Linked DNA regions of Homo sapiens. The protein of the gene in region 4 purifies or fractionates together with the protein of the main gene of each other region. This does not show direct contact. Each region holds a gene or a part of one and is shown on either strand. Other genes may lie near its edges.

Evidence for each region.
Region 1: the proteins of SNRNP27 (region 4) and TLN1 purify together in Homo sapiens (affinity purification with mass spectrometry; 2 studies listed by BioGRID and IntAct, with this or other methods). This does not show direct contact.
Region 2: the proteins of SNRNP27 (region 4) and RBM12 purify together in Homo sapiens (affinity purification with mass spectrometry; 2 studies listed by BioGRID and IntAct, with this or other methods). This does not show direct contact.
Region 3: the proteins of SNRNP27 (region 4) and HDLBP purify together in Homo sapiens (affinity purification with mass spectrometry; 3 studies listed by BioGRID and IntAct, with this or other methods). This does not show direct contact.

The regions. Positions count from the first base shown.
Region 1 is NC_000009.12:35,696,448-35,702,082, forward strand, and holds the end of TLN1 (talin-1), read right to left. Parts: intron 3,930-5,635; coding exon 3,744-3,929; intron 3,635-3,743; coding exon 3,527-3,634; intron 3,015-3,526; coding exon 2,909-3,014; intron 2,710-2,908; coding exon 2,585-2,709; intron 2,487-2,584; coding exon 2,361-2,486; intron 2,233-2,360; coding exon 2,170-2,232; intron 2,059-2,169; coding exon 1,876-2,058; intron 1,726-1,875; coding exon 1,597-1,725; intron 1,470-1,596; coding exon 1,344-1,469; 3' UTR 501-1,343; downstream 1-500. UniProt on the Homo sapiens protein: High molecular weight cytoskeletal protein concentrated at regions of cell-matrix and cell-cell contacts. Involved in connections of major cytoskeletal structures to the plasma membrane.
Region 2 is NC_000020.11:35,648,261-35,655,623, reverse strand, and holds the end of RBM12 (RNA-binding protein 12), read left to right. Parts: intron 1-279; 5' UTR 280-301; coding exon 302-3,100; 3' UTR 3,101-6,699; downstream 6,700-7,363. Other genes in the region: CPNE1 (copine-1), read left to right, coding at 2,082-2,096.
Region 3 is NC_000002.12:241,312,130-241,319,979, forward strand, and holds the start of HDLBP (vigilin), read right to left. Parts: upstream 3,544-7,850; 5' UTR 3,441-3,543; exon of another isoform or gene 3,226-3,440; intron 3,102-3,225; exon of another isoform or gene 2,973-3,101; intron 1-2,972. Other genes in the region: SEPTIN2 (septin-2), read left to right, coding at 4,339-4,426, 5,370-5,465. UniProt on the Homo sapiens protein: Appears to play a role in cell sterol metabolism. It may function to protect cells from over-accumulation of cholesterol.
Region 4 is NC_000002.12:69,889,140-69,897,489, reverse strand, and holds the start of SNRNP27 (U4/U6.U5 small nuclear ribonucleoprotein 27 kDa protein), read right to left. Parts: upstream 3,535-8,350; 5' UTR 3,506-3,534; coding exon 3,472-3,505; intron 2,397-3,471; coding exon 2,276-2,396; intron 1,055-2,275; coding exon 942-1,054; intron 114-941; coding exon 34-113; intron 1-33. UniProt on the Homo sapiens protein: May play a role in mRNA splicing.

The DNA.
Region 1 (5,635 bases), on a different chromosome or scaffold from region 4:
ATCTACTTCAAGCTTTCCCTAATGTGGTGGGAGTAGAAGGTGTTAGTAGCAGATGGGTGGCGTTTGTGTTCTACTTGAGGAAATAATGTACTGGGCGGTAGGGCTGACTAAAGAATCACGCATGAAAATAGTTGCCAACCTAAGACGACTGTCAGAGAGTCCATGCATTATGGACAGAGTGGCTGGATGGGGACGTGGAAGCACACAGCATCCACCTCTCTGACTGCCTCTTTCCACTGACCCACCAGATAAGCAGGGTGGCTGGAACAGGGCTGCTAGCACCTTCCTGGCCACTAGGGGAGCTCTGCCCCCTCTAACAATAAATTCTCACACCTGGGTCAAGCTCTTCACTTTTAGCGCTACCCTAGGCAGGAGTGTCCCAACCCAATCAAGAGCGGTGCCTACCCGAGGCAGCCTCAAGTTGGGATTTTTCTGCTTGCTAATGGCTTCAATCAGTTTTGTGGCCATAGTTCTCTTAGGCTCAGACACTTACAGGCATATTATTTTTAGCAAAGCTTCTTTTGAAAATTTGAATTTGGTCAAGGACTGGATTTGTTGACATACCCTGAGTAGCTATGAAGAACAGAATGTCCTGGTAGCCACAAGGAACTGTGGTAGCTGCTGTCCCAGCAGCAGCAGAACGACACTTTGTGAGGCTTAGGTGCTGGCCAGGGAGGTGAGGATAACAGGAGTATGACTTCTCAGGCACAACTTCCCCATTGGATAACTTTAGGGTCCGGGTGCAAGGAGGAAGGGACCTCAGGTGCAGACTGCCAGTCTTCCCCTCTCCCATTTCAAGCTGGATCAAGCTGGGTGACAGAATTCAACCCCACTGTCTCTCCTACTGCCCTGGGAGAAAACTTGTATCTCCCTTGAAGCCAGGCAGAGGTTGTAGGTAGAATCATTTTTATTGGAGCATGACCTGTTTGGGGCTTATAACTCTGCAGCCCCTATGGGTAGCTGGGGGTGGGGGAAGATAGTATCAAAAAACGGTGAAGAGAGCTGATGAGGCTGTGGGGACTGGCCGGAAGCTGCTGGCAGGGTGGAGTGGGCTGGGGCCCCGGCAGATTCAGATCGAGGTACAGCAGCGTTAATAATACTCTTGGAGCGTTAATACTCTGGGGAGGGGCAGGCACTTGGGGGGCCCTAGGGCATGAAGGCACTTGGGGTTGGGGAGGGGACAGGGGATGTACTGCGGGACTGGGCGGGGCCAGGCCCTGGGGTTTGGCAGGCACTTTGGGGAGTGCTGGGGTTGGGCAGGTTGGGCCCCGACAGCCCAGAAGGCTTTGGTAGTGGCACGCACAGTCTCTGGGCCGGGTCTGCATTAAATAGAAGAGGCTTCTTTAGTGCTCATCTCGAAGCTCTGAAGGCAGAAACTTGTACTGCTGCTGCCGGATCTGGGCCAGTTTCTTCCGCGCCTCTTCCAGCTCTCGTTCCTTCCGAAGCATTTCTTCCTGTGCTGCGATGATCTGAGGGTGGAGATCGGGGACTTAGTTCAGTGAGGATGCACAGCAGGGGCATAGGGTAGTTGGGACCAGCGCAGGCAACATGACTGCCCTCCTGACAGCGTCCCTCAGCATCTGGGGTGAAGCTCACCTGGGCAATGCCGCCAACCATCTTCTCTTTCACCACCACTGTCTCATTCTCCTGCTCTTCAAAGGCTGCAGCCTTCTGTGCTGCTTTCACCAGATTATCTGAGGCTCGCTTCACTGCGTTGCCAGCAGCCTGGGCAGAGAGAAAGTGGCCTAGGTTGAGAACTCAGGTACGGTCCCAGTTGAGACAGTACCTCAATTCTCTCATAGAAACATACATCTCGGGAGTGACAGTTTGAAGCAGTATAGCCCAAGGGACAATGGGATGGGTCAGGGTTCTCACCTGAAGTCGTTTCATTGCCTCCGAGTCCTGGTCAGCCTTGACCTTGCAGGCCACAAGGAGCTGGGCTGTGGAGGCAGCTACCTGCTTGGCTGATGAGATGAGCTTCTCCTGGCTGGCATGGCCTTGTACAGCTGCATTGGCTGCCTCACACAGATTGTTGGTGGCCGCAGCCACCATCCGGGCCTAAAGCAGGGAGAGTTTGCTTAAAAATATGCCCCTTGCCCTGGTCCATCCCCACTCCAGCCTTCTCAAGTCTCTCAAACTGAGAGAGACCTAGTGGTATTGCACACTTACAGCAGAAATGAGGCCCTGGGACCACTGCCCATCGTCCAGTGCATTGGCTGGAATGGCACCCACCTGTAGGAAGGAGAAGAGCCTACTTAGACCTGCATTTTCCTCACTTCAAAGACTCGCTGGCTATGGATGTGGATGTGGACATCAAAGTGCCAACCTGTCCCCATTCTTCTGGGTATTTAAGCACTCACCTTCCCTTGGGCCACTAGTTCTCTCTGGGCAGCCGACGCAGCCTTTACCAGTGCACTGGTGGCTGCTGCAATGGACTTGGCAGCTTCTAGTATCTGCTCCTCAAAGTTCAAGGACTCATCTGCCTCCTGCAATAAGCGAAGGTTGCAGAAAGAGATGTAAAGTCAGAGATGAAGGTGGGGACACTGCCATGGTGAGGGTGGAAGAGGAAGGGAGCAGGACTGACCTTGGGTTTGGCCCGGGGCTTCAGCTGCTCTAGCTTTTTGGCTGCAGCCTCAATGGCGGCTGCAGCTCCCAGGAGCTCATTCTCAGCAATGACTGTGGGGTCCTCTGGGTCTACCCATTCTGTTCCTGGTGGGATGAAGGAAGAGGAAAGAGGCTAAGGCAGAGTGGGGAGGTCAAAAGCACCAGGGAGCATGGTTAGTATCATCAGGCCCTGGCATCTGTGGGGACTATGGTCAGAGGCTAGCACAGAGCTGTCCAGCCAGGAAGCAGAGATCACACCATGATAAGGGTTTTCCATCCGTCCCTGTCCCTGGTCACCCCTCACCCTTCATGGCTTCAGCAGCCTGGATGAGCTCAGTGACGGAACCAGCCACACGCTTTGAATGTCCTGTCAACTGCTGCTTCAGTTCTGGGCTTGGCTTCTGCAGGGTCTGGGCAAGAAGCGGGCAGGGGACAAAGAGCATCACATCTTAGGGTCTACCCTGATCTATGAAATAGGGCAGACCATGGCCCCCTCACCCCTATCCCTAGAGCACTCCACACCATAGCCCTCAAACTCCACGCTGCCTATCCAAGTACACATCATGCATCACACCTCACACGTGATAGAGACAGTGGGGCTGTGTCACTCACCGGCTGACAAGGAGCAAGGAGAATGATGAGATGAAAGAGGAGACGACGAAAGTAGAGAAGGGGGTGGTCAGGTGGGAAGGGAGGAGAAAAGAAAAAGAGGAAGAGGAAGAGGTGACTGGGAGAACCAAAGATGATAAGAAGGATGGGGCCTGGGAGAAAGGGAGACTTGGAAAGGAGAACAGATTTGGGAAGTAGAGGGTGGGGTAGGGAGGAGATCTGAGCAAAACAGACAGCAGGGTGCGAGGCCTGCAGGAAGAGGGCTGTGTATTCAGGGAGGCTGGTATGAGGAACAAGCAACGCCCTCCCTTACCAGCAGTACATGGTCCAGCAGTTCCAGGTAGCCATTGGCACACTCCCGGCCATAGTGCAGGGCTCGAAGCCGCACATCAGGGGCCACTTCTGGGTGGTAAGCTGCTTCCTGTCCCCAGAGTAATATGTTAGCTTTAGGCCCCGCAGATCCCTACAGTTTCTCTCCCACTATGTTCTGGCCCAAAGCTGCCTCACGGAAATGCCTCAAGGATTTCTACCTTGCAAGCCCGAAGCATATCTGCAATAGCACGGCGGCTCAGATTGGCTGTGGCAATGACATCTTCCTGGCGACAGGAATTGCCAGCAGCAACGGCCTTGGCGGTTGCCATGGTGATACCCTTGGTCATTCGGATGAAGTCTTCTGGGGTAGAGGTCTTGGCAGGTGGCTCTGGGGAACAGAAAACCTGTGGGGGCAGAAGAAGAAGAAAGATTTTACAGTGGCTGAGACTATGAGACAGCGTAGAACTCTGTGTGCATGTGATTTGGTGCAGACATTCACACATCACAGTGAATGTAACAAGGCAGTTGGTTATTGTTTCTGACTGAAGCAACTGGGGAGTTTGTTTGTTTGTTTGAAATCACAAAAGTAATTACAAAAGTGGCTTTTGGCTGGGTTTTCATTCCCAAAATAGAGAGAAGCCTTGAAGGGGTGAGAGGCAGAGCTAGGCCATAAAAGATATACAGATGATAGGAGGGCATTTTAGGTAAATGGTAGGACATGAACAACCAAGATGTCACATCGGAAAGTATCAAGGAATGTTCTGGAATATAGGAATGGTGAAGAAAAGGTTATTGGGGACTTGAATATCACACCGAGGAACTTGGACTTTTACATAATATGTGAAAGTCATAAAATATTTTGATGTACGGGTTCAATCTGCAAACATTTATTAAAGATCAGCTAGGTGGCAGATTCTATGCAAGGGGCTAGGGATGCTCCCTGTTCTCATGGAGCTTACATTCTGGTTTTGGACACAGGTAATAAATAAATAAACAAGCAGCAAAACTGAGGACTGTGATTTGGATTATGAGAGAATAGAGACAGTGCTGTGATGAGAACTACTTCAAATAGGTGGTCAGGGAAGGGCTCTCTGAGGAGGTGACATTGAGGCTGAAGCCTGATGAACTGGAAGGAGCACAGTGTTCAAAAAGCTGGAGAGAACTGAGTGGAAGAGCCTGCAGCAGATAAGAGCTTGGCATGTTCTCAGAACTGATGGTGCAGGGGGATGGGGCACAGAAAGGAAGAGAGTAGGATGAGACTGGAGAAGCAAGCAGAGCCATCACTAATGGGTTTTAAGTAGTGAAGTGACATAATCTAATATATATATATTTCTTGCTCTGTCACCCAGGCTGGAGTGCACTGGAGTGATCATAGTTCACTGCAGACTTGAACCCCTGGGCTCAAGGGATCCTCCTGCCTTCAGACTCATGAGTAACTGGGACAGGCATGGGCCACCTTGCCCAGCTAATCTTTAAATTTTTTGTAGAGACAGGATCTTGCTATGTTGTCCAGACTAGTCTTGAACTCACTCAAGTGATCCTCCCATCTCAGTCTTCCAAAGCGCTGGGATTTTACAGGCATCAGCCAGCATGTCCAGACTCTAATTTATATTTTAAAAACATAATTTTAGCTACTGTGTACAAAGGAGGATTGGAGGGGGCAAGTGTTGAAGCATGGTGACTGGATAGAGACTACTGCATAAATCCAGTTAAGGACTGATGATGGTTTGGACAGTGTGGTAGTGGTAGGAGATAAAAAGAAAAAATGAGCTGTATTTGGAAGGGGCACTAGCAAAACTTAGATGTGGGGAATGAGAGAAAGAGAGAAGTCTAATATATTGAAGCTAGGTTTCTGGCTTTAGGAACTGAGTTACTAAGAGGTGCCATTTACTGAGATGGGGGAAGACCAGGAAAGGACCAGGTATGGGAGGCAGAAAGTCAAGAGTTCCAACTTGGACATCTTCAAGTAAAAGTGAAAACAGAACCTTAGAAAGATGCATTTAGAAATTAGAAAGATGAGTAGGGAGAGAGGAGAGTGGCAGGGACCAGAAGCAGGGAGACCAGGGAGAAAACTGGTGCCACAGCCAAATTGCGGGAGAGTATGGAAGTG
Region 2 (7,363 bases), on a different chromosome or scaffold from region 4:
GTATTTTACTGTCCTACAGTTGTTTTTTCTTGAACTTTTTGAGTCTTGGGACTGAACTGTTTCCAAAATTAATGCCTTCTGGAAGTTGAAATTGTCTACGTTTTACATTGTAAATGGCACGTAATGTTCAGTTTTTAGAATATCTAAATTAAAGACATTGCCTGTGATAGCTTGAGGGAATATTTGAGGGCCTAATATGGTAGCTGGTCATTCTTGTAGCTAAAAACTTGGTGTGATAAACAGGAGTCTGACCTGGCCGTTGCCTTTTCTCATCTGCAGGTGTGTGTGGTTTCAGCGCAGCATGGCTGTGGTCATCCGTTTGCAAGGTCTCCCAATTGTGGCGGGGACCATGGACATTCGCCACTTCTTCTCTGGATTGACCATTCCTGATGGGGGCGTGCATATTGTAGGGGGTGAACTGGGTGAGGCTTTCATCGTTTTTGCCACTGATGAAGATGCAAGGCTTGGTATGATGCGCACAGGTGGTACAATTAAAGGGTCAAAAGTAACACTATTGTTGAGTAGTAAGACGGAAATGCAGAATATGATTGAACTGAGTCGTAGGCGTTTTGAAACTGCCAACTTAGATATACCACCAGCAAATGCCAGTAGATCAGGACCACCACCTAGCTCAGGAATGAGTAGCAGGGTAAACTTGCCCACAACAGTATCCAACTTTAATAATCCATCACCCAGTGTAGTTACTGCCACCACTTCTGTTCATGAAAGCAACAAAAACATACAGACATTTTCCACAGCCAGCGTAGGAACAGCTCCTCCAAATATGGGGGCTTCCTTTGGGAGCCCAACGTTTAGCTCAACTGTTCCAAGCACAGCCTCTCCAATGAACACAGTCCCGCCGCCACCAATTCCTCCAATTCCAGCGATGCCATCTCTGCCACCAATGCCATCCATTCCCCCAATTCCAGTTCCTCCTCCAGTACCTACATTGCCTCCTGTGCCTCCTGTGCCCCCGATTCCCCCAGTTCCTTCTGTGCCACCCATGACCCCACTGCCACCCATGTCGGGCATGCCGCCCTTGAATCCGCCACCTGTGGCACCTCTACCTGCTGGAATGAATGGCTCTGGAGCACCTATGAATTTGAACAATAATCTGAATCCTATGTTTCTTGGTCCGTTGAATCCTGTTAACCCTATCCAGATGAACTCTCAGAGCAGTGTGAAGCCACTCCCCATCAACCCTGATGATCTGTATGTCAGTGTGCATGGAATGCCCTTTTCTGCAATGGAAAATGATGTCAGAGATTTTTTTCATGGGCTCCGTGTTGATGCAGTGCATTTGTTGAAAGATCATGTAGGTCGAAATAATGGGAATGGATTGGTTAAGTTTCTCTCCCCTCAAGATACATTTGAAGCTTTGAAACGAAACAGAATGCTGATGATTCAACGCTATGTGGAAGTTAGCCCTGCCACAGAAAGACAGTGGGTAGCTGCTGGAGGCCATATCACTTTTAAGCAAAATATGGGACCTTCTGGACAAACTCATCCCCCTCCTCAGACACTTCCCAGGTCAAAATCGCCCAGTGGGCAGAAAAGATCAAGGTCAAGATCACCACATGAGGCTGGTTTTTGTGTTTACTTGAAAGGGCTACCATTTGAAGCAGAAAACAAACATGTCATTGATTTTTTTAAAAAGCTGGATATTGTGGAAGATAGTATTTATATAGCTTATGGACCCAATGGGAAAGCAACTGGCGAAGGCTTTGTAGAGTTCAGAAATGAGGCTGACTATAAGGCTGCTCTGTGTCGTCATAAACAGTACATGGGCAATCGCTTTATTCAAGTTCATCCAATTACTAAGAAAGGTATGCTAGAAAAGATAGATATGATTCGAAAAAGACTGCAGAACTTCAGCTATGACCAGAGGGAAATGATACTAAATCCAGAGGGGGATGTCAACTCTGCCAAAGTCTGTGCCCACATAACAAATATTCCATTCAGCATTACAAAGATGGATGTTCTTCAGTTCCTAGAAGGAATCCCAGTGGATGAAAATGCTGTACATGTTCTTGTTGATAACAATGGGCAAGGTCTAGGACAGGCATTGGTTCAGTTTAAAAATGAAGATGATGCACGTAAGTCTGAACGCTTACACCGTAAAAAACTTAATGGGAGAGAAGCTTTTGTTCATGTAGTTACCCTAGAAGATATGAGAGAGATTGAGAAAAATCCCCCTGCCCAAGGAAAAAAGGGATTAAAGATGCCTGTGCCAGGTAATCCTGCAGTTCCAGGAATGCCCAATGCGGGACTGCCCGGTGTGGGACTGCCCAGTGCAGGACTTCCCGGTGCAGGCCTGCCCAGCACAGGACTGCCTGGTTCAGCAATAACCAGTGCAGGACTGCCTGGTGCGGGAATGCCCAGTGCAGGAATACCTAGTGCAGGAGGTGAAGAGCATGCCTTCCTGACTGTAGGATCAAAGGAAGCCAATAATGGGCCTCCATTTAACTTTCCTGGTAATTTTGGTGGATCAAATGCCTTTGGGCCACCAATCCCTCCTCCAGGATTAGGAGGCGGGGCCTTTGGTGATGCTAGGCCTGGTATGCCTTCAGTTGGAAACAGTGGTTTGCCTGGTCTAGGACTGGATGTTCCGGGTTTTGGAGGTGGACCAAACAATTTAAGTGGGCCATCGGGATTTGGAGGGGGCCCTCAGAATTTTGGAAATGGCCCTGGTAGCTTAGGCGGTCCCCCGGGGTTTGGAAGTGGCCCTCCTGGTCTTGGAAGTGCCCCTGGGCATTTGGGTGGGCCACCAGCTTTTGGGCCTGGCCCCGGCCCCGGCCCCGGCCCTGGCCCAATCCATATTGGTGGTCCCCCTGGCTTTGCATCTAGTTCTGGAAAACCAGGACCGACAGTAATTAAAGTGCAAAACATGCCCTTTACTGTGTCTATTGATGAGATTTTAGATTTCTTTTATGGCTATCAAGTAATCCCAGGCTCAGTGTGTTTAAAATACAATGAAAAAGGTATGCCCACAGGTGAAGCCATGGTGGCCTTTGAGTCTCGGGATGAAGCCACAGCTGCTGTCATTGACTTAAATGACAGGCCTATAGGTTCAAGAAAAGTAAAACTTGTATTAGGGTAGCCATTCACATCATTTTTTATAGGGTAGATCTTCATATTGCTGTGATTAATGCATCCAGATTGTTTTCCTAGTATTTCCAGGTTAGAACCTGTGGATTGTTTCAATTGCATATAGCTTGGTTTCCATAACATAGAGCATTGGTTGACTGTTTACAGAAGACTCACTCACCAGGATAAACATTGCTGTATGTTACAGTAAAGCTATCTGGAGAGAACACATAAATGATTTTGGCATACCATTAGAGAAACCATTTGTAAAACTCAAATGACCACATAAAGCTTATCAAGGAGTCTAGATTGGTTTTGTTTTATACCATATGGGATGAAGAAAATAGAAATGTCAGTAGAACTCATTGAGGGTGCTCTTGCCAGCTGCTGAAAATAGAAGTTGGCTACTCTCAGAATTTGGTTTAAAGCTGGACAGATTTGCTTTGTTATAGGGTAAAGCTTTGTCTAAAGTCCTCATTTTCTTTTAAAATTGAATAAAATTTCTGTATACAGATTCATTGTATGTACCTTTATTGCTTCTTAAGGGTCCTTGCTGTATAGACAGTCCTGCTTCAGAAGTTGCTGCTTTGTTTGTCTAATTGACTCATTTGTAAATGAGCAGAACTGTTTTGTTGGTTTTTTTCCCTAAATATAAAAGTCCACACTTCGTTTGTGCTATAACCTCAAACTTTGATTTCTAATGTCACACTTAAAACTGTGTGGAATAAGACTTTTGCCATAAAAATAAACTATGGAGTCCTTTATCTACCAGAGCCTTTTTGGTTTGACCGCCACGATTTAGGTTAGTCAGTTTAAAAATTGTTCATGTTGTTTGGATGGTATCGAAAACCAGAAACCACTTTTAATAATGTGTTTAAGATACTTGATTTGAAGTCCTTTTCATATGGACTAATTGTAGTATCAATTTCCTCCTGTCCCGATTATGTGAAATTTTGGCCTTTAAACAAAGAGGGGCCCATTCATAAGAAAGTGTTATATCTAGGTTTTTAAAACTGAAGTTGAAATTATCTTTGTTAGCAGTAGTAGTATAGAATAAAAGATCCGTATGCTGGTTCGTAGATTGATACGTGTTAGTCCTGTTATTTGGAGGCTTTTTGGCATAGTTGTTCGATCAGGAGCCTGTTTACTAAAAGTCTTCATACAGAGTACAAGTGCAGCCGCCAGAGGAGAAAATTGAGATTCTTGACCCTTTCATACTCTTTTCTTTGGTATTCAGGACACTAAGGCAGGAGGACCACATGAGTTCTGGTTGGTAAGTGTCCTTGTCATGAAAACACTTGCCTTACAAGGCTCTAATTATGATTTCCCTAGTCAGTGCTCTGAAGATGTGTCACATTATATTATAAACAATACGGAAGGGGAGATAGGTGAGATGATATGAAAAACAAATTTTCTCACTGTCATAAAAGGCTCTAATTATGGTTACTTTCCTTGTGATGAAAAACTTGGCCTTACAGGGCTCTAGTTATGGTTACTTTCCCTAGTCAATGCTCTGAAAATGTGTCACATTATAAACAATACAGAAGGAGAGATAGATGAGAGATCATGAAAACCAAATTTTATCTTTTACATGGCCCCTTTGTCTTCGTTTGAAACATCCCCAACATTTCCTACAAATCAGCGTAGTTACAAAGGGGTCAGTCTTTTAAAATAAGTATTTCCTATTAAACTATATATATATACAGTGCCTTTTTGGTGTTGTGAGTCAGTGGAACACTGAAATACAGCGGTTGTGTAATTTAAGAGTGGCAACAGTTTCATTTGATAAGATTTGAAAAGGCTTTTTATCACTACAATCTTAGAGGATTGACAGTACAGGATTTTTGTTTAAGAGAAGGATTGTTTAGACTCAAGAGGTGACTATGTTGTGGGTCTTTTGATAATTCATGAATACAGATTTGCTTTGACCGATCACTAGATACTGCCTCCTCAATTTCAAAAGCAATATAACGTTTGTATATGCTGTTTAATTTAAGTTAATGTTAAGTAATCATTTCTCATTCCAAAGACAATGCAAAAAACTTCAGCACTGCTTGAGAGTTGTATTTCAGCCACAGATATTTTCTCCATTGGAAAGCTATTTTCATTTTAGAAAAATGGGTTGTTTGAAGATGAAAGTCTTTTATCTTTTTTCACAATTTATTTTGGTTATATGTTCGTACATTCTTATTAAATATTTCATACACTTTATTGCAACTACTTTGTTATTTCTACATCTTAGATAAATGCTGAAAAGGAAAACGATTTCATTGTTCATCTAATTAAATAAATTAAAAGAGCGGTTTGTGTAGAAATTGGAGAGAACTATGTTTTATATGAATCACAACAGTGCTCGTTGTGGACTGTAATTAAATGCTTTGCCCTCTGGAACTTGATTTTTGTGTATCTGAGATTTATTAACAGTGCTAACTGCTAAGGATACTGTTTATCTTGTTCTGGGCATTGGAGTTTCAGTTTTTAAAAAATTCTTGAAAATGTATTCTGTGAAACTACTCATACCTCTCTTCCTGCGAATTTTCTCCTAAGAACTAGGTTTGGGGTAGAAATGAATTGACATTATTTTCTCATTTGCTTTGTATGGTATGAAGGATTTGTAAAGCTTTGCTCAAAGTTGTGTGCATTTGTAAACACTATCATGATATTTTCAATTTTATGTGTAAATTTTATTGTCTGTTTTTGGTGACTCTGACATTAATGGAAGAGAATATTTTCCATTAGATTTAATTTTTTTTCCTCTCCCTTCTGATTTTTTTTTTATTGGTGTTCATTTTTCTTTTGATTTAAAGGATTAGAGAAATCTACAAATGTATGTCATAAATAAGCAAATTTGTAAACTTTTCTGAACTTTAGTGAAACATTTAGTTCACAAGCATAATTTGGAGGTGTGTTCTGTGTTTACACAGTAGTTTGGATGTACAATTATTATTAGTGGCTTTTTAAAAAATGAAACAGTGTTAAGTGAAATGTAGTTCCTAGCTTTGTACTCCAAGTTGTCAAAGCATCAACAATGAAAATTCGATTAGGAAACTTTATTTAAAATTTCAGGTAGTAATATTCAGTGTAGTTAAGGCCAGTCTTAACCCACTGGATGAAAATCTAGGACTGTATGGAAGTAAGCAAACATTACATTTTTAGGTGGAAATAGTCAGCCTTGCATAAAAACAAGGATGCGTGAAAGCCTTAAATTCCAGCTCCCTTTTACTGGAGTCTGTGGTTGTGTACAGGTATGGGCCAAGTGTAAAATCTCATCAATTTTAAGAACACTCGGGAAATGAGTAAAGAAAATGTAAAATTGCTGCTAGTCAAATCTTTTGGAAAGAATTTCTGGAAGTGGTCACTTTAAAAATTATTTTCCACCCTTGCAAAATTGCCACATTTAAATTGTTTTACTGGCAGTTCTATAGTAGTCCAGACTTTAGAAACCAAACACAACAAAATGGCTTGTTGCCAATATGGCCACAACATTGCCAGCAAATACTGCCTTGGCATCACTCAGCAGAGGTTTTTGTTTATAAAGATGAAGTCTTGAATACTGTTCAATAAACTTGTCAAAAAATAAAACAGGCTGATGCTTTTAATGCTTTAACTGCACAAAAGTACTTTACTGAGCTATAATATTATCTTGTCAGGGTTTTTGTTTTGTTTTGTTTTTAAACCTGAAAATATTTTGTGCCTTTGGAGAGGTAGATTTGGTAATCTTGGAGAGGTAAAAATTGTTGCTTATCCTTGCCTGCTAATGCTGAAGTGTCAAGAGAAGAGGATACTTGGAACAGCAGGGAGGAAACTTGATTCAAGTCCATAGTATCCACCTTTTCAGAATTTTATGTGTATGATGTGTTGGCAAACAAAGCCCTTAAATGTTGAAAACTTTTTATCTTGAAAGAGTTTAGCTTGTATTAGAATTTGGATACCCAGTGTGTTTTAGAGGGGGCTAGACATATAATTCCAGGTAGTAGCTGAGCCATTATTAAATAATCGGGATTTGACTAAGCAATGGACAAATCACTGAGTGAAATCAGCTGCCTACAGATATCCAAAATGGCTTTTACCATCTGAAAGGGGTGGACTGTGTGATAATATGTCTCCTTTTCTTGTTCAGGAGAGATCAGTTATGTAATTCATTGTTACCTGCTTTCCAGTGTTTTACAGCAAGAAATAGTTTATCAACTATGTGCATCATCACTAATCTCCCAAAAGTAGAGCTTTTACAGGGTATGGTAGAATCAAACTTATGGCTTTCCTTTTTTATTAAAAA
Region 3 (7,850 bases), about 170 Mb from region 4:
AAGCTGTAACCTTGATTTGAAATAAGATTAATATGAATGCTAATAAAAAGTAGTAAGGGAGAGTATGTAGTCAATGTATTCTTACCAAATTAACAACAAGTATCAACAAGATGACTAACACAACCACATGATGTCCAGACACGTCTCAGAACAAATGTCTAGCTCATCTTCAACGGTATTCGAGGAACTTCAGTGTGCTTGGTAAAACAATAGCCTACTAGGGATTTCACTTCTAAAATGTCTCTGACTTTAGAAATACCAAAAAATAACATGTAACCAAGTTTTAAAATATTATACACATGAAAAAAGGTTCTTTTCATTATTTTCTTGGTTTCCAGATGTTGAACGTTGTGGTGCTTTTACAATTGAAGAGAAAAAGCATTCTGACACATTATACTGGTTGGGGTTCTCTGCTTTTCTACTTGGTCAAAAACCTTTACACGCATTTTGGACTTTGTGTCATCATAACTTGGCAATTGGGAAAGCCGCATGATATGCTTCTTTCAGAACTTGGTTACTTCTTACCAAAAGAGGGAAAAGCTTTCGTATCACCATTTGCCTATGGGATGGATGCACAATGAACGGGCCATACCAAATAAAAATATCACTTTGTACTCCAAAAAGCATGTTCTCTGCTTAAGCCCTTTCTGTAAGTTTCAGCTGGGACGCACTAATGGAGAATCCATATGACCCACGAAGGATCGTAAGATATCCCAGTGGACCCGGCACAATCATCTCAAATTCTGTTCAGGTCAGAGTATCTTAGATAAAACTCACTGAAGGGCATCAAGTCCTTCAGTACACAGTCTGAGCCAAGCCCTCTACCATTTGCCATGGCAAGAGTATACCAAATTCTAAACCTGTTGCTCACGTATGCCACCAACTATAAATGTCAGCCTCCTCTTTCCTAGTCTTCCTGTCCACTCAGCACCACCTGGAAAAACTCTTACTCGTCTTTTAAACCGCAGTTCAAGGACCACATTCTGTAGGAAGACTTTCCAACAGGTAACCACTGCCTATTTCCTATGTCCACACCTTACACATATTTCTATCATTGCACTTATCACACCATAATGTAATTACTCTTCTACAAATAAGTCTCTCACACTAGACCACAAGCTGCCTGAGGAAAAGAAAAGTCTATATCCTCTTTTTTTGTTGGCTTTTTGAGACACAGTCTCACTCTGTCGCCCAGGCTAGAGTGCAGTGCTACAATCTCGGCTCACTGCAACCTCCGCCTCCTGGGTTCAAGCGATTCTCATGCCTCAGCCTCTTGAGCAGCTGGGATTACAGGCGCGCGCCACCATGCCAGGCTAATTTTTGTATTTTTAGTAGAGACAGGGTTTCACCATGTTGGTCAGGCTGGTCTCGAACTCCTGACCTCAAGTGTCCACCCGCCTCGACCTCCCAAAGTGCTGGGATTACAAGCGTGAGCCACTGCACCTGGTCGAAAAGACTATATCCTCTCAACCTTTGTATCTGCAGAACCCTTAACCCTACACAGCAATTTCCAGCAAATATTTTTTTGAATTGAAATGAAGAAGTGAGGTCATGAGGCTGAAGTCAGACAACTGGAAGGCCAAAACAACAAAACCTGGAAAAATACGTATTTACTCAAGAAGAAATTCTCCCACCAGGCCACTGAGAAGTTAGCTTTGCCCACTGGAGAGGACACTGTAACAGGGATTCAAGTAAGCCTAGTGGCGCTGAGGGACGTGATATAGGTCAACTATATCTTTGAGGTGCTCTCCTTACACTCAATGCACTTTTACCCGAATGACGTTAATTTGACTCCTGATAAGATGAGCTAAGTCCCTTCAACAGTGCTTGGCACCAAGCAAAACTAATAGCAGTAACAGGAAAGTTTAATCCTCATGATGAATTATTTAATGGGGTTTCAAACGCTGTCCCTGAGACTTGAGGCAGTAGGCTCCAGCTCCATTTTCCCCAAGTCTAAAACTTGATAGGTTGATGTTTCAGACTCAGAGATTCGGTAATCCAAATGATGGAAATAATTCTTACCCAAACACCTTTTCAACTATTTTTAAATACTGTTGCCAAGCATCCTAATATCATGTGTACTTAATGAATTTAGCCTAGGGATACTTTTACATGTCAAAAAATCAAAATATAAACCTAAGCACTACGTTTCATCCAGTGTTTCAGCATCCCAGATTTGCTTCCCTAAATGAACATTAAGCTTATTATGCAATGTGCCGCTACCAGGAGCCTTAGACAAAACCCTAATTGTGACTTAACCTATCTTAATAGGGTTTTAAGGAAGTTAGCTGCTAAGAAAGTGACTATCCTTAAGCAGACACCAAATAAATGTGAAGTCATTGATTGAGGGCTTAGGGTATAGGTAGCTATGAATCTGAGGACATAAAACGCAAAACTGAGGGGCAAATCGTCATGTTCCTTAAGATTACGACTCATCCACATTCCTTCAGCCGTTTAATTTCACCATAATAGGCACTGTTTAATAAGCAAAGCCCAAGTCGACTTCCTTCGATTTTACATGGCGTCCAAACACCATGTCAAGTCTGACCCTCTCATTTTTTAAGTCGAATGGAGAGGATATGTAGCAGCTAGCCTTGAGCACCTAACCACTTTTCAAAGGAGCTACGCACAAAAATACCCTAGCAACATGCCACGGTGTCAGAAAGGCTCAGGTTCCCAACACCATGCGGGTCAGCCATTAGGAACTCAGGAAGTGTTTCCTCTAAGCGGGGGAAACCTAGGAAGGCTTCCTGAACGAGGGGTATTTGCGCCAAGCCTTGACGTGAGTCTCGAACAGTTGCAGTGCCTCCAGGCCACGCGGGAGGGAGGAAAGGACACCCCGGGCCGGGGCACAACCCGCGGGCCGGAGCCGCCCGCGCCCATCCCGCTCAGGCCGCAGCCAGGCACGGCACCCTCCCGTCCCCGAGCCACGTCGCTGCTCGTGGGCTCGCGGAGCACTCCCCAGGTCTCACCTCGGGCCCCACACCAGAAGGAGAAAGCTAGGGGCCGCGCCAGCTCCGCCCTCCCCCGCGGGGCGGCGGGCCCCAGCCCGGGCACAGGAAGGCCACGTCCCCGGGGAGGGACGCCCGACTCGATGGTCTGCGCAGGGCCCGTCGGCCCCACGTGACGTGCGCGCAGCCAATCCCAGAGAGGCCCCCCGATCATCGAGACGGCGGCGGTGGTGGGCTAGACGAGTTTCGCGCGGCCGCTCGCCGTCCCCCGCCCAGTCGTACTCGGCGCCCCAGCTCGGTGCTGCCGCCATCTTCTTGGAGGACAGGAGGAGAGGCGAAGGCTCCCCCTCCCCGTGATCGCTCCGCACTCCCGCCACCACCTGCCCTCCCGCGACCGCCTCTCTCCTCCTCAGTGGGCACTTGTCTCCTTCTAACAAACGGCCTTCCCCCCACTCCAGTTACCCACCGCAAGGCGAAGATTCTCATTACCTGTTCCACTCTTATAAGCATAAGAAAACCGAGCTCATAAGGTAGGAACTGTGGCGAAACAGGGACAAGCCGCCATCTTGGTAAAGGAGAAGAGGCTACGCTTGACCTCCCCCCCCACCCCCAGCCTCTATATGGCCAACTGCCGTGGGAGGAGCACGGCGCTTGCGCAGAGGCGGACAACGCGGACGACTCTGGGCTTGCGCACTCGGAAGCCGGCCGCATGGGGGAGGGGAAGAAGGCCAGGTCGCACTGAGCCAGGAAGCAGTTGGCAAAGGGGCGGGGTGACGCGGTGACGCAATCCGCCTGCGCGCTGGGCGGGGCGGGGCGGGCTGGGGCGGGCTGTGAGCGGACCGCGAGCGCTGGGCGGGTCCGCGGCGCGGTCGGTCGGCGCCTGTTCTCGGGCTGTTTGGCGGGTGAGTGTCTCGCCGGTGTACCCCGCACAAGTTGTGGGCCGGCCCTCCCGAGGAGCTGCGGGGGACGCGCCGCTCGTCCCATACTCTCGGGCGGTGGTCGGCTGGCTCTGGGGTGCCGGCGGGGCGGTGTGGGGGAGGGGCGGCCGAGCCCAGGCTCTTCGGCACTTATCGTGGGCTCCCCCGTCCCGGGCGGTCCTAGTGCCGGCGACAGTGGCTCCGACACGGGCAGGCCCGGGCGCGGGAGTGGGGATTCCGGTGACCCCTTGTTGACCCTGCGGGAATTCCTCTGCACTGTCGTCGGTGCTGGGCCTCGGGGCGTCGAGTGCGGTCGAGGTCGGGAGGTTTGGTGCTTGGAGGGAGGATACAGGTTTAGGCCCGACAAACACTTAGAGCTTGTGTGGCCATCTTGTCTTTCTAACGGTGCCATTTCCTCCCTGAGGCGTGGAGGACTGGCCAGCCCCCAAACCTCCAAGCCCATCGGCTGGATGCCGTGGATAAGCGAGGGGAGAGCGACTAGGCCCTGTCTGCGGGTACCTTCGGCGAGGAGAGGCGACGAAGGTCTGCACCAGCGAGGCACGGACAGGCAGCAGGGGGTAGGGTATAGGGTTGGAGGCCGCCGAGTTGGCCCGGGGATGAGGAGCAAACCTGTGGCTTCCGTGGTCTCAGTGGAGTCCCAACTGTGACCTGGCCTACTGGCCCAGACAAACCTGGCTTGCTTTTTTACCTTTTCGGTCTAATTCTTGTCAGTGCCACCAGACCTTGTCCTCTCTCCACGGAAACACACGAACCAACTACACTGAACTTCTTGTAGTTCAAACTTCTGCACCTTTGGCCATTGCCCAAACTCTTAAATCTGGCTACTTCCCACCTTAACTGCCTTCTCCTTACCTAGTCTGTGCTTGTGGGATTCCGCCCAAATTAGATTTCCTCCAGACAGGCTTAGGTGTTTACCTGATGTTCCAGATGGTATTTGTCCAGTGGACTATTGGTGCTGTGAGGGCAGGGCACATGTTGTCACCCATACTCATTGCCTCGGTTGGTGTCTAGCACCTAGTAGGTTCTCAAATACTTTTTGAATCACAGTGCCTGCCGATATATTTAATGTTTCAAAATAGTTCTGCCGTCATAAAGAAAAACATCATGGTGTAGGGGTCATGAAAGCTGATTCTTGATACTTCTGATTTGAGCCTCATTGTTTTCAGTGATTTTTGATAGCTCCCATTAATGGGTTCTTTGCACCACCCAGCATCCTAACTCATGATGTGTACTGTTATGTATAATCTTGGCATTGATCTCATTAGCTATAAAGGTTGTCCTGATTTTTTTTCCTCAACTTCCACCTTGATTTCTCTCACCAGTGCCACAGCCAGGAATAAAGAACAAGAGCGTTTTAATTAGATCAGATTTACATTCTGACTGGCTCTTAAACTAGCAAGGTGACCTAGGGAAAGGGGCCAGGGTTTCCCTCTATCATTCATAAATGTAATTCAGGGCCCCTTTTTATCCCCAATACCAGCATACAGAAACTGCTGTAAAAGAAGAAGTTGTGGGTATTTTTTTTTTTTTTTTTGTCTGGAGGAATGGGGACACCAAAACTCATTTGGCAGCAGAGGTGAGGTAAGGCCATTTGTATTGTCTGTTCTGTTAGTAGTCATACATGCCACTTATCCCTGCCCCAGTCCCTGTTAGGAGTGTTATGTGGGTATACTGAACGTGGACCTTCCCCGAATCCAAAGAATCCAGATGCTTTGAATAAGATCATGGACCTTCCGGGTTCTACATCGCCAGATGTTGTTCATCTTCTATCTTTTGTTTTGCGAAAATTGGTTTTTTATGTGTATTGGGGTTATTCTGTGGAAGAAATAAGCTGTGGGTCAAGATTAAAGAACTTTAAACAACTTCTGGCATGTGGAATAAACACGATCTGAAGGAACAAAATTTTCATTTGACTACATTTTTGGTCCAATTTGCACCCAGTGTTTAAGTTAATCACAGTGCTTGGCAGTTTGTGTTGCTGGATCAAGGCTTTCTCACTGAAAACCATGTGCTTCAGAGGTTCATAATTCCTCTTTCACCTTCCATTTCACATTAGTTAATAAATTATGAGAGAAAACATTGTGGATCCAAGTTATGTTTCAGAAAAAAAAAAACAGGAAAAAAAAAAGATGGCAGGAGAAACTTGGTAAAGTCAAAGCAAAGTTGAAATGTCAGTTTAAGACAAATAGTTTCTCCATTTTCCCATATGTGTGCACAGGGTTCAGTGAGGCTGAGGGGTTCTGTGGAGGTGCGGGAGAGGTGCTCTATGGTATTTCTATGTTGCACTGTGTGGGTTTGAAATCAGATACATGTAATAGGTGATAAGGTAAGTGCCTGCTCTTTTCTATCCTCAGCATTGGCATTTAATCTTTCCATGTGAACTTAAAGCTCATTTTATCCAATCCTTTAAGAAAAAAGCCACACCGTTAGGGATTCCAGTTAGAAATGGACTAAATAACATACTCATTTGGGGAAAATAAAAATGATTTGATTTATGTAGGACCTGTTTTCTAGTTTGGTCCCTACTTGTTTGGATTTTTAAAAATTCTGTTGTAAATGATGTGCCCCCATTTCTATTCCTTGATATTTGTTGCTGGTACTTGACTTACTTGAGATCTTATATTTAGCTACCTTACTAAATTATCGTATTCTAGAATTTTTTTAACCAGAGTATTTGTATTTTCTTTTTTTTTTTTTTTTTGAGACAAAGTCTTGCTCTGTTGCCAGGCTGGAGTGCAGTGGTGCGATCTCAGCTCACTGCACCCTCCACCTCCCGGGTTCAAGTGATTCTGCCTCAGCCTCCTGGGTAGCTGGGATTACAGGCAGGCGCCACCACACCTGGCTAATTTTTGTATTTTTGGTAGAGACGGGGTTTCACCATGTTGGCCAGGATGGTCTCAATCTTTTGACCTCGTGATATGCCCGTCTTGGCCTCCCAAAATGCTGGGATTACAGGCATGAGCTACCGCACCCAGCCGAGTATTTGTATTTTCTGTGTATTCAGTCCAATCAGCAAAAAAGTGTTTTCTTTTGATTTTCTTGTTTCATTATATTCAGTAAACTCACCAAGGTAGTATTAAATAATCATGGTGAAATTGCAATATCTGGATCTTACTTGGATCTTGATTCACATGAAAAAAATGAGAGAATAGAGAATATGAATACTGATTGGATATTTGATTGCATTAAAGAACTAGCTATGTGTAATGGTTTGTCATTTTTAGGAGCCCTTATTTTTAGATATGTGTAGTGGAATATAAATGAAATGTTACATCTCGTATTTGCTTCATAATCATCCAGGCAGTGGCATTGATGATTGTGGAAATAGATGAAACATTATTGACCTTCAGTTGCTAATTGTTGAAGCTGGATAATGGATAGCACATGGGGGTTTTGTTTGCTTTTTGTATAGGTCTTCATGTAAAAGTTTTCATGTAAGTGCTTAAAAATAATTATGGAAGGGCATTCCTGCCGAATTATCGGTTGTAATTTAAATAGATTTAATTTTCTATTGTTTAGAAAACAGTATTTGCCTTTGGTTTTCAGAAATATCCTGAATTAGATTTAAGCAGTTTTCCTTTTTTTCTTTTTTTGAGACAGTCTCACTCTGTCACCCAGGCTGGAGTGCAGCAGCACCATCTCGGCTCACTACAGCCTTCACCTCCTGGGCTCAAGGGATCCTCCCACCTCAGTCTCCCACTTAGCTGGGATTACGGGTGCCCGCCACCACACCCAGCTAATTTTTTTGTATTTTTTGTAGAGACAGTGTTTCACCATGTTGTCCAGACTGGTCTTGAACTCCTGAGCTCAAGCGCTCCTCCTGCCTCAGCTTCCCAAAGTGCTGGTATTACAGGCGTGAGCCACCACACTCTGCCAGCAGTTTTCTTACTGTTTTCATTATGATTGGTTGCTGAATTTCATATGCCTCATCAGCATCTATTAATGCATGATTTTTTTTCCC
Region 4 (8,350 bases):
AATTCAAATGAGAATGTTGCACGTTTTACTTACTTTTGTGGAGTCAAAGGAGGCAAATCCCATTAACTTCATCATTTCTATTTCTTCCTCTGTTTTGCCCTCTAAGTCTTCCTCTGCAAAAAAGAATAATTTTGTGACCTCTCTATCATTTCAAATATATACATAAATAAAAAGAGAGGTGGTAACAGATTAATAGTCATTCCACCTCACTAGCAGAGAACACACAAAACAATTAGCTGAAGATGAGTCTAATGAAAAAATTCCTCTTACATTTGGACAGAATGTAACTTATGGTACAAAAAAAAAGTCCTCTCCTTGAAGCCTTTAGACAGGATTACCTTTTAAAAAAAAACCTGGGTTTCATATTAAGGACTACCTTTAATATCAGGCATGACACTATATAGTTCTGAAGACACTTCCAAAATAGAATATTCTCATGTTTTTAACTATCGTTCTATATCAGGAGCACCATAGATAACCAGCAACTTGCTAGGGTGCAATTAAAACAAAATCTCAGGCTGGGCACGGTGGTTCACGTCTATAATCCCAGCACTTTGGGAGGCCGAGGCGGGAGGATCACCTGAGGTCAGGAGTTTGAGACCAGCCTGGCTAACATGGTGAGAACCCGTCTCTACTAAAAATACAAAAATTAGCCGGGCATAGTGGCGGGTGCCTGTAATCCCAACTACTCTGGGACGCTGAGGCACAAGAATTGCTTAAACCCAGGAGGCGGAGGTTGCAGTGAGCCAAGATTGTGCCATTGCACTCCAGTCTGAGTGACAAGAATGAAACTCTATCTCAAAAAAAAAAAAACCAAAAAAAACTCAAAACCATATGCAATGAATACTATAAAAGGCTTAACATTTAAATGTTCAAGATTAAACTTTTATAATTTTATCATCACTGTACTTTTCCTACAGTTATTTATCTAATAACATTACCAGTAATCTGCCGTTCTTTGCTCTTTGTTTCTTTTGTTTCTTTCTTTTCCTCATCTCTTCTTTCTTTCAGTCGAGAAGGGGAAGGAGATGTGGATCTATGTCGTCTTGGAGATCTAATATTTATAAGCAAAGATGTTAGAAACAGACAGACATATCAACTTTGTATCAATCAGCACAGATATACATGAGGTGAGCTCCACAGAACCACGAGTCATTCCGTATAGCAAAGTGAGGAAAAAGGTTCTGCCAAGGCCTTGATTGTTAACAAAAAAATTTTTTAATGTAGTTTACTGCTTAATCATCAGTTGCATTCAGTACAACTAGGGCTAGAAAGCTTTCTGGAAGGCAGAAAAATGTAAATTAAAAGTTTCTAACAACCACACACAAATATACAAAAAAGCTGACTTAAACAGCAATTGATGGTTATTAAGACTCAGAGCCAGGTGGGGCTTGGTGGCTCACGCTACTAATTCCAGCACTTTGGAAAGCAGAGGCAGGAGGATTGCTTGAGCCTAGGAATTCAAGACCAGCCTGGGCAACACAGGGAGACCCTCTCTCTCAAAAAAAAAAAAAACAAACCAAAAAAAAGACTCAGAGCCCATTTCTAATGTTCTTCCAAGATCATCCATTCTTGATTACATACTTGAATAAATCATTATCACCAAAAAGTTAATAAAAAAGAAACAACAGGCCGGGTGCAGTGGCTCACGCCTGTAATCCCAGCACTTTGGGAGGCCGAGGTGGGTGGATCACGAGGTCAGGAGATCAAGACCATCCTGGCTAACACGTTGAAACCCCGTCTCTACTAAAAATACAAAAAAAATTAGCTGGGTGTGGTGGCATGTGCCTGTAGTCCCAGCTACTTGGGAGGCTCAGCAGCAGAATTGCTTGAACCAGGGGAGGCAGAGATTGCAGGGGAGGCGGAGGTTGCAGTGAGCAGATTGCGCCGCTGCACTCCAGCCTGGGTGACAGAGCGAGACTCCGTCTCAAAAAAGAGGAAAAGAAAGGAAAAGGAAAAGAAAAGGAAAGGAAAGGAACGGAAGAAAGAAACAAAAATATAAAATACTTATTTCTTTTTCTTGCCAAGCACCATGCTCTGGGGTTTGCATGCATTATTTCTTACTTACTCTTTCAAGACAACTTTGTGATGTAGAGTACTATTAGCACCATTTAACCAAGGTGAATGTTAGCTTTAGAATAAGGTTGGATTAAGTTTCCTCCATTTCAGGAAACCGTAAATCCCCTTATAAGCGATGAAAACAAAGTTAAGAGCTGCGACCAGTTTCTTAGGGACTTTCGGTAAATAAAACTCTTGGCTTATTTTCTGCCCTTACCGGGAGCGTCTTCGGTGCGGGGATCGCGAGCGGCTCCTTCTCCGATCTCTCTCCCGAGACCTGGACCTTTCTCGGCGCCTGCGTTCTCTCTCCCGGGATGTGGACCGGGAACGCCTACGTTCTAATGCAAACGCACACAAATTGCAGAACTGATAATTACCTCAAATATCTAGAGCTGCGCCGTCCAGTAGAAAAATAATGCAAACCATTACTAGTCACATTAAAAAGGTAAAAAGAGGCTGGGAGCGGTGGCTCACGCCTGTAATCCCAGCACTTTGTGAGGCTGGCGGGCGGATCACAAGGTCAGGAGTTCGAGACCAGCCTGGCCAACGCGGCGAAACCCCGTCTCTAATAAAAATACAAAAATTAGCCAGGCGTGGTGGCACGGACGGGTAATCCCAGCTACTCGGAAGGCTGAGGCATGAGAATCGCTTGAACCCAGGAGGTGGAGGTTGCAGTGAGCTGAGATCGGCCACTGCACTCCAGCCTGGGCGGGCGACAGAGCGAGACTCTGTCTCATTAAAAATAAATAAATTGATTTAAAAAAAAAACGAATCAGGGGCAGAACCGAGGGTCTAAGTTAGATCTCCTAATGGAAGTCCAGGGTTCTTTACGTCGCGCTGCCTCATTTATGGGGCTGGTAGCCAGAAAACATTACGAAGTGAGCTCCCAGGACTCAAAATTCTTAATATCGATTTCCCTGTAATGACCTGGGCAGGAATCTAACATTTATTAAGTATTTAAGAACCAGGCAGAATCACATACTGTATGTTATGGGATGTGACATTAATTCTCACATCAGTTTTTAAAAGTTGGCAATACTACCCTCAATGACTCATTCTGGGAATTCGATTCAGAAAGGCTGAGTAGTGACTTGCCCACCGTCGCCCAGAAATTCAGCAAAGGAACTGAGGTCTAATTCTAAACCCACCGGCCACAGTGTAATAAAAGTTATTGTATGAAGGTGACAAAGACTTAATGAAACTAATTCAGAGACAAACAACTGCCTTCAAACCGGAGAGGGCGGGCTGAAGAGGGCAGGGCCCAGGTCTACGTTCCTTTATCCACCCCTCGCTCTCCGCCTGGGAAAAGGGCCCGCCTCTCTGCTACGCGGCTACCAAAAACAAAACAAAATAAAACAAAAGGGACAGGCCTCCAACAGAGCCCCATATCCTCCGAATTGCTACAGGACTCACCCCTCCGTGGAGAGCGGCTGCGACTGCGACCCATTTGGAGTCCCGCTTCCCGGAAACAACTGTGCAACAACTTCCGGGAGGGCCGGGAACCGAGCTTTTACCGCCGACCAGAAAACGTCAAAACGAGTTGCGAGGGTTCCGGTCTTCTTTGTTCACGGTGGGCATTAAAACATGCGATTTGGTGTTATTATAGAAATTCCTGGAAAATTCAGCCGTATACCCATTATCCTAACACAGCTTTCATTTTTCCCCCATTTTTGTCCACATGCACAAAATAGAGCAAACCAATTGTAAACATAGCATAGACAAACAGCTTATGTTCTTCCACTTTTCCACATAACATTCATAAGGAGTGAATATACCAAAGTTCACTGTCCATCTGCTTTATATTTTCTCATGCCAGCATTGAGAAGGCACCCAAAACCTCCTATGGGCTCTTGGAAGGAAAACTAAAGGCCCCAGATTCCATCCTACCCGACAAAGTACTTCCCCAAAGTTGCCTCTGTCCTCAGGGAAAACAACAACAACAACAACAAAAACTTTAGAATGTTCAAAACTACAAAAATTAGGAGAAAGACTGTCTTGCCCCAAGGCTGAACCGTCTGTGGTAGAGCATAAATATGCTTACCAGGAAAGACTCAAACCTCTATTTCTTATTTTATTTTATTTTGTTCCAGGGTACATTTGCAGGATGTGCAGTTTTGTTACATAGGTAAATGTGTGCCATGGTGGTTCGCTACACCTATCAACCCATTAAGCCTTGCATCTATTAAGCTATTCTTCCCAATGCTCTCCCTCTCCCCAGCTCCTCCCCCTACAGGCCCCAGTGTGTGTTGTTCCTCTCCCTGTGCCCATGTGTTCTCATTGTTCAGCTCCTACTTATAAGTGAGAACATGCAATGTTTGGTTTTCTGTTTCTGTGTTAGTTTGCTGAAGATAATGGCTTCTAGTTCCATCCATGTCCCTGCAAAGGACATTATCTCGTTCCTTTTTATGGCTGTGTAGTATTCCATGGTGTATACGTACCACATTTTTTTAATCCAGTCTATCATTGATGGGCATTTGGGTTGATTCTATGTCTTCGCTATTGTGAATAGTACTGCAGTGAACATATGCGTGCAAGTATCTTCGTAATAAAATTATTTATATTCCTTTGGGTATATACCCAGTAATGGGATTGCTGGGTCAAATGGTATTTCTGGTTTTAGGTCTTTGAGGAAACACCACATTGTCTTCCACAATGGTTGAGCTAATTTACATTCCCACCAACAGTGTAAAAGTGTTGAACCTCTGTTTCTAATCAAACCAACTCTTTTCAGTCAGCTCTCTCTAGAATTATCAAGTCTAGTGACCTGGCTTTTAAAATACAAAGAGCTGGGGGATGGAAAGGGACTTTATTAGGTTGGAAAAAATGCCCACCAATCACATAAATTTTTAATTAGATTTATACATTCAGAGTGGCCTGTTTAATACCTGTCCCAACCCAAACTTCCAGGAAAGATCCAGCCATGACATCTAGGATTTCTACCAACAGCCCCAACCCCCAGATGCCTTTGGAATTACCCTGGCAAAGCATGCACTAGGTGTAGAATGGGGAGGTTCAAGGGAGGTGCAGACCCCAGGGAAGAAGATTTAGGGACATCATTGGAGAAACACACCACTAATGATAGCCAGGCGTGGTGACGCATGCTTGTAATCCCAGCTACTTGGGAGGCTGAGGCAGGAGAATTGCTTGAACCTGGGAGGTTGAGGTTGCAGTGAGCTGAGACTGCGCCACTGCACTCCAGCCTGGGCGACAGAGTGGGACTCCGTCTCAAACAAAAAAAAAAAAAAAGAAAGAAGAAGCACACCACTAATGATTGAAGAAATTATCCACAGGAAAGACAGGATTTATGGGAAGCCTAAGGGGGTATGTACTAGATGTGTAAGAGAGGAAGAACATGGTGGCCTCAGGTGGTGGCTGAAAATACTCTTTCTTTCTCTTTCTCTTTCTCCTTCTCCCCTCAGGGCTGGGGTCTCATCTGATGAAAATGCTTTTTAAGAAACCCCTCACCCGGCGCGGTGGCTCACGCCTGTAATCCCAGCACTTTGGGAGGCCGAGGCGGGCGGATCACGAGGTCAGGAGATCGAGACTACAGTGAAACACCGTCTCTACTAAAAATACAAAAAATTAGCCGGAGGTGGTGGCGGGTGCTTGTAGTCCCAGCTACTCGGGAGGCTGAGACAGGAAAATAGTGTGAACCTGGGAGGTGGAGCTTGCAGTGAGCCGAGATCGCGCCACTGCACTCCAGCTGGGCGGTAGAGTGAGACTCCGTCTCAAAAAAAAAAAAAAAAAAAAAAAAAAAAAGAAACCCCTCTAGGACTAAAAATGATTGGAAGGTATGCTGGGGATCAGTTGAATACACAAAGATTTTTTGAATGCATGCGATGCACAGGACACTATACCCCTTTGGCACTAGATTGAAAAGATGAGTAAGACATGGTCCCTGCCTCAAGGAGCTTGCACTCTAGCTGTGGAGGCAGACAGAGGAAGACACCTCTTCACTGTAATGTGGTAATATAAAATATGCACAGTGTGCTAAGGTGACATGAAAGAAGGCTATTCAGCCTAATTTGTCCAAGAGGGTTTCCTGGAATAATAATAATAGCTAATACATACTGTGCTAACTAAATGCCAGGCACTGTTATAAAAATGTTTATGTACACACACATTCACACACAATTAGTTGAGCTGTGAGACTGAAAAGAATACATTGTCCAAGCGAAGAGTAGGAGTAGCAGCAATAGCAAAGGCACAGAGATGTGTCACATTATGACATACACAAGCACTGAAAGAGGTTTGATATTATCATCACTTTGAGTTCACCATGGCAGACCTTACCAAGTACCTGGGACTTTATCCTTACAGTTATGGCTGGCCACTGGAGCATTTCAGGCTGGGAGTGACCTGACCAGATTTGCATTTTAGATGATTCATCTGGATGCCAGATCTAAAGACCTGAGCCAGAAAGAACAAGTGGAGGGAATGAGGGGTTGTACTAAGGCAATGATAGAAGAGAATGAGAAAGAACAGAATCAGGAGACATTTGAGGAATAGCATGGCAGGTATTGGAGGCTAGTTAGATCCAGGCAGTGGGAAGAGAGAGAAGAAACGACTTCCAGGCAGGGCCAGCTTTATAGGCATGTGACCTGTGTAGTCACACAGGGTCCTGGGCATAGAAGGGCTTAATACTCAGCTTTTGCTACTCTTGAAATTCCTACTAATCTTTGAACAAGAGGTTCTGCAATTTCCATTTTGCACTGGGCCTAGTAAAAAGTGTATCTCATAGTGATGCCTACTGAAGTGAGAAAGTCACAATTTGTCAGTTTACTGCTTAACTGAGACACGATGGTGAGTCCATGTGGGAGACAGTGGAGAAGGCAGTAAAAGGGAGATCCCTTTTTTATGTGAGAGCCCCTCTGTCAGTGATTAGTATGGACCCTTCCCTGCCCCTAGATCCCGCCATATCCATTCAGGGGAATTCCTTTTGTACACGTTTGCTCCACAGCATGAGGACCTAGTTACACTTTTGCTTTTGATGACAGGGAGAACATGAATTTCATTTTAGAAGATTATTAAGTGTGAGGGACTTGAGGAACATCCAGATAGATATATTTTTGGTAGGCATCTGACCAGCTACAGACTGAGTCTGATAATTAGGGAAGCAATCTGGGCTAAAGATAGAGATGGTGGGGTGGGCACGGTGGGTTATGCCTGTAATCCTAGCACTTTGGGAGGCTGAGGTGGGCGGATCATGAGGTAAGGAGATCAAGACCATTCTGACTAACACGGTGAAACCCCGTCTCTACTGAAAATACAAAAATTAGCCGGGCGTGATGGCAGGAGCCTGTAGTCCCAGCTACTCGGGGGGCTGAGGCAGGAGAATGGCGTGAACCCGGGAGGCGGAGCTTGCACCAGTGAGCCAAGATTGCGCCGTGGCATTCCAGCCTGGGCAGCAGAGCGAGACTCCATCTTAAAAAAAAAAAAAAAAAAAAAAAAAAAGATACAGATGGGGGAGTGATGCATTACAGGAGTCCATGAAATTGTCCCAGTGAGAAAAGTGTGCTAGATGAGCCAAGGATGGCCCCCATGTGGGGTTAAACAGACAAGAAAAGGCCCAAAGAAGCCAAGATGCAATTGTCAGGTAGCAAAACAAGAGTACAGAACAATGTGCTAGAATTCAGAGGGGTGGAGTTTTGAGAAAGAATGAGAATGTTCAGTGTAGCAAGCTGAATAATGGCCACCCAAAGATAGCTGGTTCTTTCCTCTGGAATCTGTGACTATTACCTTCTGTGGGAAAATGTTTACAGATGTGATTAAGAATATTGAGATAGGGAGATTATCCTTGATTATCCAGATAAACCCTAAATGCCATCACTAATGTCCTTATAAGGGACAGGCAGAGGGATGTTTGATACATACATGAGAGAAGGAGGCAATGTAACCACACAGGCAGAGATTGGATGGTGCAGCCACAAGCCAAGGTCTGCTGGCAGATTCTTCTCTAGAAACTCTGAAGGGAGCACATCCCTACTACACTTTGGGTTTGGCCCAGTAAAACTGGTTTTGGACTTCTGGCCTCTAGAATGGTAAGAGATGCTCTTGTTTGAAGCCATCAGGTCTGTGGTAATTGGTTGCATCAGCCTCAGGAAACTAATACCATCAGCTATGTCAAATGCAGCAGGGAATCCTTTAAAACAGGGGTCCCTAATTCCCAGGTCATGGACCAGTATGGGTCTGTGGCCTGTTAGGAACCGGGCCACATGGCAGGAGGTAAGCAGCTGGTGAGCCAGCATTACTTCCTGAGCTCTGCCTCCTGTCAGATCAGCAAGGCACTAGA